Linked DNA regions of Homo sapiens. The protein of the gene in region 2 purifies or fractionates together with the protein of the main gene of each other region. This does not show direct contact. Each region holds a gene or a part of one and is shown on either strand. Other genes may lie near its edges.

Region 1 (3,747 bases), on a different chromosome or scaffold from region 2:
CAGTCAGCAGTCTCTTTCCTTTCCCAGAAGTGGACCACCTCCTCTTGCCTCTATTCCCCTATTCACTCTGCTTTGTCACCTCCTGTCCCCCGCATATCATATCCGTCAGAATACTTCCTTTCCCCCTCCCTTCCTGCTCAGGTCGGTAATACCTGCCCTGGTGCCTATCACTTCCTGGATCACCCACCCCCTTGTGACTGCCAGACCCACCTCTTGACCCACCACTTGCCTGACCCTGGTTCTAAGCCAACGGGGCTGGGACTAGAGGAGTCGGACAAAGGGTGGGAGACCAGAAGGGGCAGGGGCAAGAGGAGCTATCACCAGAGAACTCTACTGCCCCTTTCCACTCCCCTATTTGAGATGAGGACAAAGGGGGTGACTAAGCAATGAAAGACAAAGGGCTTTAGAGTGGCTGCAGCAGTGTGTGTGGGGGTGTTGGCAGCAGGGAGAAGGCACAAAAGCTGCAGTGTCCTAGGCAGCCCCTCAGGAGCCCCCCACCCCAGTCCCAGCTCAAGCTGCCTCCAGGGCCAAGCAGCCCAAAGTCTATCCTGACTTCTCCCAGGCTGGATCAAGGCAAATAAATGCAGTCCTTCCCATCCCCCACCACCATGGCCACATTTGCTGTGTTTCAACAATAGAAAGAAGGCCCAGGGAAAGAGCAAGGAATGAGGACAACAGAGGGACCAAACCTCTGCCCTGGCTCTGTGGCAGCTGCCTTGTCTAGCCCAGGTCCTGGTCAGTTCCCACAGCTAAGGATCTGGCCCCACCCTTTGGTACAGTTCCCATTAGGTCAATTCCCAGGCCAGAAGTCTGGCTTTCCCCTCTTTCTCTGCAGTGAAGAATTCCACCATCTCTGCTTCCTGGTCTGTCTGCCTCACCCTGCTGCGCTGCTGGTGGGCTGTGTCCCTGGGATCCTGTCTAGGGGATATCTGGGGAAGGCCTCTTTCCAGGCTCAGAGTTGGAGAGTTGTACAAACTCTACGGGTGGGTGGCCCAGCTGGAGTTGGGCTTAGAGGCAGAGGGAGAAAACAGGAACTAGCCTCTAAGGCTGGAAGAATCTTTGTCCATACAGAATTGTGATCAGACTCCTGGTGCTACTACATTTCCGTGCTGTTGGCCATTACCCAGGAGGGCTATAGCAGGGTCAGAAAGACGTTAGGGAAAAGAGGCTGACGCAAGACGGAAGTGGGGTGTGAGGCATCTCTAAGGGCGCTTCCTGGGTCTGTGATTCTGTAGGTTCGGGAAGCCTGGAGGATGTCAGGGTCACCCACAGAGGACCTCCACTCCCCCATCTGGGATGAGGTGGCTCCTACACACCCCGACACTCCCCTCCGCACCACCAATGCCGGCGGCCTTGGCATCCTATTCTTTTTTGTTTTGGTTTGGCGGGAGCTCTCAGACCCGCCCAGCCCCACTTAGGCTCCTTTCTCCAATCTCAATTTATGACATCTGGAAATTAGCTGGCTTTCCCAACTCCTGTCTTTTGGATTCAGTGATGGGAAAGTAATTGGCAAAGCCTGGGGCTACCCTATAAGGGCAGGGCTCAGATACAATCCGAGAGCAGGACTAAAGCATGAGGGCGGCCAAGGCGGAAGGGAGTAGGGAAGGAAGCGCCGCGCGTTTCCAAGATACGCAGGCGGGCTCGGCGAGAGAGCACGAAGTATCTGCCCCACGCAGGAACGGCAATTTTCCCTTGCTCGCTCCTAGAAAAGCCAGCCAGGAGCTGTGGGAGGAAACGCCCTCAGTAAAGATGACCGCGGTCACTGTTATCTAAACGCAAGTGAAGCCGAGTCACAGGACCCGGATGTTGTCAGTTCGACGGTAAACGACCCTGCCAGCTTCCAAGAGGGCGGCTTCACTGTGCGAATAGGTGAGAAGCCAAGAAGGAGGCGCGCTGGAGTTACTTCCGCCCGGTTCTCCTTCCCGCAGTCTGCAGCCGGAGTAAGATGGCGGCGCTGAGGGCTTTGTGCGGCTTCCGGGGCGTCGCGGCCCAGGTGCTGCGGCCTGGGGCTGGAGTCCGATTGCCGATTCAGCCCAGCAGGTGAGATCGAGGGCAGCTCTCGACACACTTTCTCCAAGGCTAGGGTTTCTCAGGTTGGGGACGCTTTACTCCCCCAGAAAATAATAACCCAAGCCTGTGACCCCATTGTCCATCCCTGATTTCTTGGGCTACGGGATGCAGTGGCGCCCACTCTGGCGAGGGAGGGGAGAGGGTCTAGAGTTCGTTCGTGCCGAGGTGAAATCAGCGGAGTGGGAGACTCTGCTTTTTAGCTTCAGTAATTTGAATGCACCTCTCCTGTCATACCTGAGTAGAGCTCAGCCAAAGAGCCAGAATGCTCGCTGTCTCTCTGTCGTTGACCTTGAACAAACACTTTTCTCACGTTCATATTCACCTGGTTGATAATATCAATATGATGAAAATATGAAGAAGCTAGGATCCCAACCTTGCATGCCCAGGGGTGATGGGTGGAGTTATTCCAGGAATAATTTGTTAGTAGGAATGGAACCTCTAGAGTTCCAGCTTGTTTTGCCGAAGCTACATTAACTTCAGATCAGTGACTTGGCATTAAAAAATCCAGGACATTGGCTGGGCGCGGTGGCTCACACCTGTAATCCCAGCACTTTGGGAGGCCTAGGCGGGCAGATCATCTGAGGTCGGGAGTTCGAGACCATCCTGACCAAAATGGAGAAACCCCCGTCTTTAAAAAAATACAAAATTAGCCGGGTTTGGTGGCGCATGCCTGTAATCTCAGCTACTTGGGAGGCTGAAGCAGGAGAATCACTTGAACCCGGGAGGCGGAGGTTTCAGTGAGTCGAAATCACACCATTGCCCTCCAGTATGGGCAACAAGAGTGAAACCCAGTCTCAAAAAAAACAAAAAACAAAACAAAACAAAAAAACAGGTCATCCTTCCTGGGTCCCCTTGAGAGTGAATGGGAACACAGGAACCAAACACTGTTCAGGCCCTTTGTCTAGGATCTGTCTTTGACTCCCCAGAGGTGTTCGGCAGTGGCAGCCAGATGTGGAATGGGCACAGCAGTTTGGGGGAGCTGTTATGTACCCAAGCAAAGAAACAGCCCACTGGAAGCCTCCACCTTGGAATGGTGAGTGACCAGAGTTGCTGTCCCAACCCACACCCATCCCTGCCCCCAGCTGATTTCCTTTTCTTTTTTTGAGACAGGGTTTCCCTCTGTCTCCCTGGCTGGAGTGCAGTGGTGCGAAAGTGGCTCACTGTAGCCTTGAACTTCTGGGCTCAAGGCAACCTTCTGTCTCAGCCTCCCCAGAAAGCCGCAACAACAGGCCTGTGCCACCACAACTGGCTAATTTTGAAAATTTTCCTTTTGTAGAGACAGAGTCTTGCTATGTTGACCAGGCTGGTTTCAAACTCCTGGCCTCAGGTAATCCTCCCAACTCAGCCTCCGAAAGTGCTGAGATACAGGCTTGAGCCACCATGCCTGGCCTCCAGCTGATTTCTAAGTGCTCTTGAGCTCTCTGTCTTAGGCAAATTTTAGCCCCTATCCTGTTTGCTTCTTTCACCACGAAATTCAACAGACATAATAGTGATAACAACAGGTATTTGTGAAGTAGAGAAGGAAAGGAAGGATGTTGCAGAAGAAAATAAAGAATGGGTCCCAGTAAATACCCAAAAGTCCCTACCAATTTAAATATTAATGCCAGCTTTTCCCATGTTCAATATATTTCAGGTTCACTACATTATCTCCCTCTCCAGACAAGGTGGTGGTTTTCC
Region 2 (3,747 bases):
CAATTCTCATGCCTCAGCCTCCCGAGCAGCTAGGATTACAGGCATCCACCACCACGTCCAGCTAATTTTTGTATTTTTGGTAGAGACAGGGTTTCACCATGTTGGCCAGGCTGGTCTTGAACTCCTGACCTCAGGTGATCCACCCCCTCGGCCTCCCAATGTGCTGGGATTACAGGCGTGAGCCACTGTGCCCGGCCATAGCTTCTTAAAAGGATACGTTAAGGACCTTAAAAGGATATGGCCTCTTAAAAGGATATGTTTACACACCCTTGTAGCAAATAAGAAGCCATGTGAGGTTTTGAGCAAGAGAAAGATGGTTATTAGGAAAGCTAATCTGGCTCTGGTAGGAAGGATATACAGAGGAGACACCGAATCCAGGGCATCAGTGAGGAAGCTGTTGCTGTCCTCCAGGTTTAGAGCAGTGGCGGTGGGACTGGAATAGATGTGCCCAAGAGACATTCAGTGGAAACGAACCAAGATTTTCCAACCCCATGTCAAAAAGTGGGAAATAGAGAAGTCAAAAATGACTCTCAAGTAGTTTGTATGACCATTGTCAGAGAGGAGAATGATAGAATACTTGTCAGCAATTTGAAATGTCTTCTGCCAGTTGCCACATGTTACCCTGCAATGAGAAAAGCCACTTTCCTGAGAATGGATACTACCCAGTGGCCTCCTCATCTGGACACCACGAAGCTTCTCACTGGTGTTGTAAGTGGAAACCAGAGTAGCTGCCTATCTCCTTGATTATATTTTTTCTTAAAAATGTATAACTATCAGAACACAGAACAAACAGCTCCTAACCGCTTTGGTGTAGTGATCACACAATTTAGAATAAGACTTAGAAGACTTTCCTTTTTTTTTTTTTTCCAGAGACAGGGCCTCCTTCTGTTGCCCAGGCTGCAGTGCAGTGACATGATCATAGCTCACTGTAACCTCGAAGTCCTGAACTCAAGCAATCCTCCCACCTCAGCCTCCCAAGTGGCTAAAACTATAGGCATGCACCACCACACCAGTTCATTTTTTAAATTTTTTGTAGAGTTGGGGCTGTATTTCCCAGGCTGTTTTGAACTCCTGGCCTCAAGTGGTCCTCCCCACTGGGCCTACCAAAGTGCTAGGATTATAGGTGTGAGCCACCACACCCAGCCTCATTCATCTTTTATGGTTTGCTGTCTCTGTTCAATCAAAACCCAGCCTCCTCCCATCTCTGTGCTGACAGACCTGGAAGGAGAGGAGTATGGGGTATACAGCAGAGTAGAAAATGTCTCCAGGTGATTCTAGAGCAATCCATTGTCTCCTCCCAGCCCAAACACATGTGTACTGAGCACGGCGCACATCACTTATTAACTTACTCTGCACCTCCCTAGTAACAAGTCCATTGGTGAGACTTACACAGAGCCAAGGCAGGTGACTTGGCTTTGTGCCAGGATACCAAAATTTAAAGGGTGCAAGAAAGTATTAATACTGGTTTTAAAAGATTATGTGACTGTAAATTTTGTTAGATTTACACATTGACAGCCCAGCATTCCTTCAACTGTCTAGAAACAACTGAGCTTAGCACCTAGTTAACAAGAATAATTAGTTAAAACGGGAAGCTAGCAGATGGTGTACATTGTTAGTAACACCCCTCTGTGTGCCAAATCCGGAGCACAAAGTTGACCGAGGGCCCGTGTACTGCAACTTGCCCAAGGCATCAAAATTGCCAGTTCCGGGCAAACGGAAAGTCTGGTTTCAGGGTGGCTTTGTACTGAAAACCCTTGTTGGCAGATTCTGCTTGGCCATTCATTACTCTAGCACAGGCCTCACTATCTACTTATAACTTATTAAGGAGGTGAGATGTTGCCTTTCTTCGCCTTCTCAATTTAAATTTCAGTTTCTGCCTTGAATCTTTCATGCCTCCAGGTCAAAAGAGAGAGACAGAGACAGGGAAAATGACATCATAACCAAATATGGAATTGCTTTAAATTCAGGCTGGTATCTTCTCCCATCACGGCTCTCCTGGGCAACCAGTTTCCTGATGACCCCAACTCACTTTCAGAGGGCTCTTATGAATTAGCTCTGTGCTACAAAGTGGGAGACTGACCTCAGTTCTTCCACCACTAACTAGCTTTGTGCCCTGAAAACATCACTTCACCCCTCCCAAACACAGAATAAGCAGGCCTCCTGTTCTTACCTAGCCCCAGTGTGCCACTACTGAACTATAAGATCTTGAGAAAATTCTCTGAACCTATTTCATCATCTCCACCTTAAGGACACTGGAATAGATGATCTCAAAGGCCCCTCCAGGGTAACTTTCTACAGCTCTATTTAAGCCAGTTTTTCCATTCAGGTAAGTGTGGACAGATTGACTTTGAGATAATGGTAACTTATTCAAGGAGAACTGGACAGTAAGCACTTGGAGAAATGTGGGTGGAACTCAGTGTGAAAGGAAGAGGAGGGGTCTGGAAATAGATTTTGGGGTGAGACTTGAAATCATGAGAATGAAGGAGCTTCCCAAAGGGGAAGTGTAAAGAAAAGAGCGTCAGAGACAGCCTTGGAAGAATAGGAGGTGGGAAGAAAACACTGCAAAAGAAATAGGGCCAACTTCCTGGTGGGTCGCGCCTGTAACACTTTAGGATACTGAGGCAGGTGGATGGCTTGAGCCCAGGAGTTCCAGACCAGCCTGGGCAACATGGCAAGACCCTGTCTCTATAAAAAATACAAAAATTGCCCGGGTGTGGTGGCACGCACTTGTAGTCCCAACTACTTGGGGGGCTGAGCCAAGAGGATGGCTTGAACCCAGTAGGTCAAGGCTGCAGTGAGCTGAGAACATGCCACTGTGCTCCAGTCTGGATGACAGAGCAAGACTCCGTCTAAAAAAGAAAGAAGCCAACCTTAAATGGTTAGCGGCAGATCTTAGGGTAGTTTTCAAAAAAGATGTTTTAAGAAATAGAAGTTATTTTGACGATAGTTCCTAAGTAGGAAGATTTTGTTGTCATTGTTGTTGTTGTTTTTAATATAAAGATAAGGTCTCGCTGCATGGCCCAGGCTTCTCTCAAACTCCTCAGCTCAAGTGAGCCTCCCACCTTGGCCTCCCAAAGTGCCATGATTACAGGCATGAGCCACAGCTCCTTGCCCAGAAGGAAGTTTTTATCAACATGGGTAAATGCACCTCCCTTACTTACTGCAGCCCTGGTCCAGAACTTACCCCTCTCTCTAGGCTGTGAAGCTTCATGGAGGTATCGATATCCTAGTCTCCAATGCTGCTGTCAACCCTTTCTTTGGAAGCATAATGGATGTCACTGAGGAGGTGTGGGACAAGGTGAGAGGGGATTAAAGCAGGGGGGCCGGGGGGGGCGCCTTGGAACACATTCAGCACAAACTCCATCTGCTTTTAGAATGCATTTCTCAAGGGCAGTGTAAATGTGAGGACTCTTTGCCACGTGCCACACACCTGGAGCACACCTTGCAAAGGGCGGGTGGGGGTGGCTCTATCCCTGCCCTTCTCATTCGTTTCTGCTACTCCTAGTTCTCTCTGCTTCTATCTGCTCTTCACTAGCCACAGTCTGCTCCTCTCCCCAGGCTTTTTCCCTGGCATGCTCTTCTGCCTTGTTGATTTCCAACAGAGACGTAGGCAGCTAATATGCCAACAACTACAACACTTAATTTACACACCCACCTGTCCCCTTTTCAGCTGACAAAAAGTAATTATTTTTTACGAGTTGGGAAATATTAAATGCTGCTCCTTATTTAAAATACTAATTCTGGTGA

What was found. Proteins that work in one complex are often made in the same cells at the same time.
Region 1: the proteins of DHRS4 (region 2) and NDUFS2 purify together in Homo sapiens (affinity purification with mass spectrometry; 2 studies listed by BioGRID and IntAct, with this or other methods). This does not show direct contact.

What each region holds. Positions count from the first base shown.
Region 1 is NC_000001.11:161,200,441-161,204,187, forward strand, and holds the start of NDUFS2 (NADH dehydrogenase [ubiquinone] iron-sulfur protein 2, mitochondrial isoform 1 precursor), read left to right. Parts: upstream 1-1,926; 5' UTR 1,927-1,945; coding exon 1,946-2,040; intron 2,041-2,996; coding exon 2,997-3,103; intron 3,104-3,747. UniProt on the Homo sapiens protein: Core subunit of the mitochondrial membrane respiratory chain NADH dehydrogenase (Complex I) which catalyzes electron transfer from NADH through the respiratory chain, using ubiquinone as an electron acceptor. Essential for the catalytic activity of complex I.
Region 2 is NC_000014.9:23,956,706-23,960,452, forward strand, and holds part of DHRS4 (dehydrogenase/reductase SDR family member 4), read left to right. Parts: intron 1-3,196; coding exon 3,197-3,298; intron 3,299-3,747. UniProt on the Homo sapiens protein: NADPH-dependent oxidoreductase which catalyzes the reduction of a variety of compounds bearing carbonyl groups including ketosteroids, alpha-dicarbonyl compounds, aldehydes, aromatic ketones and quinones.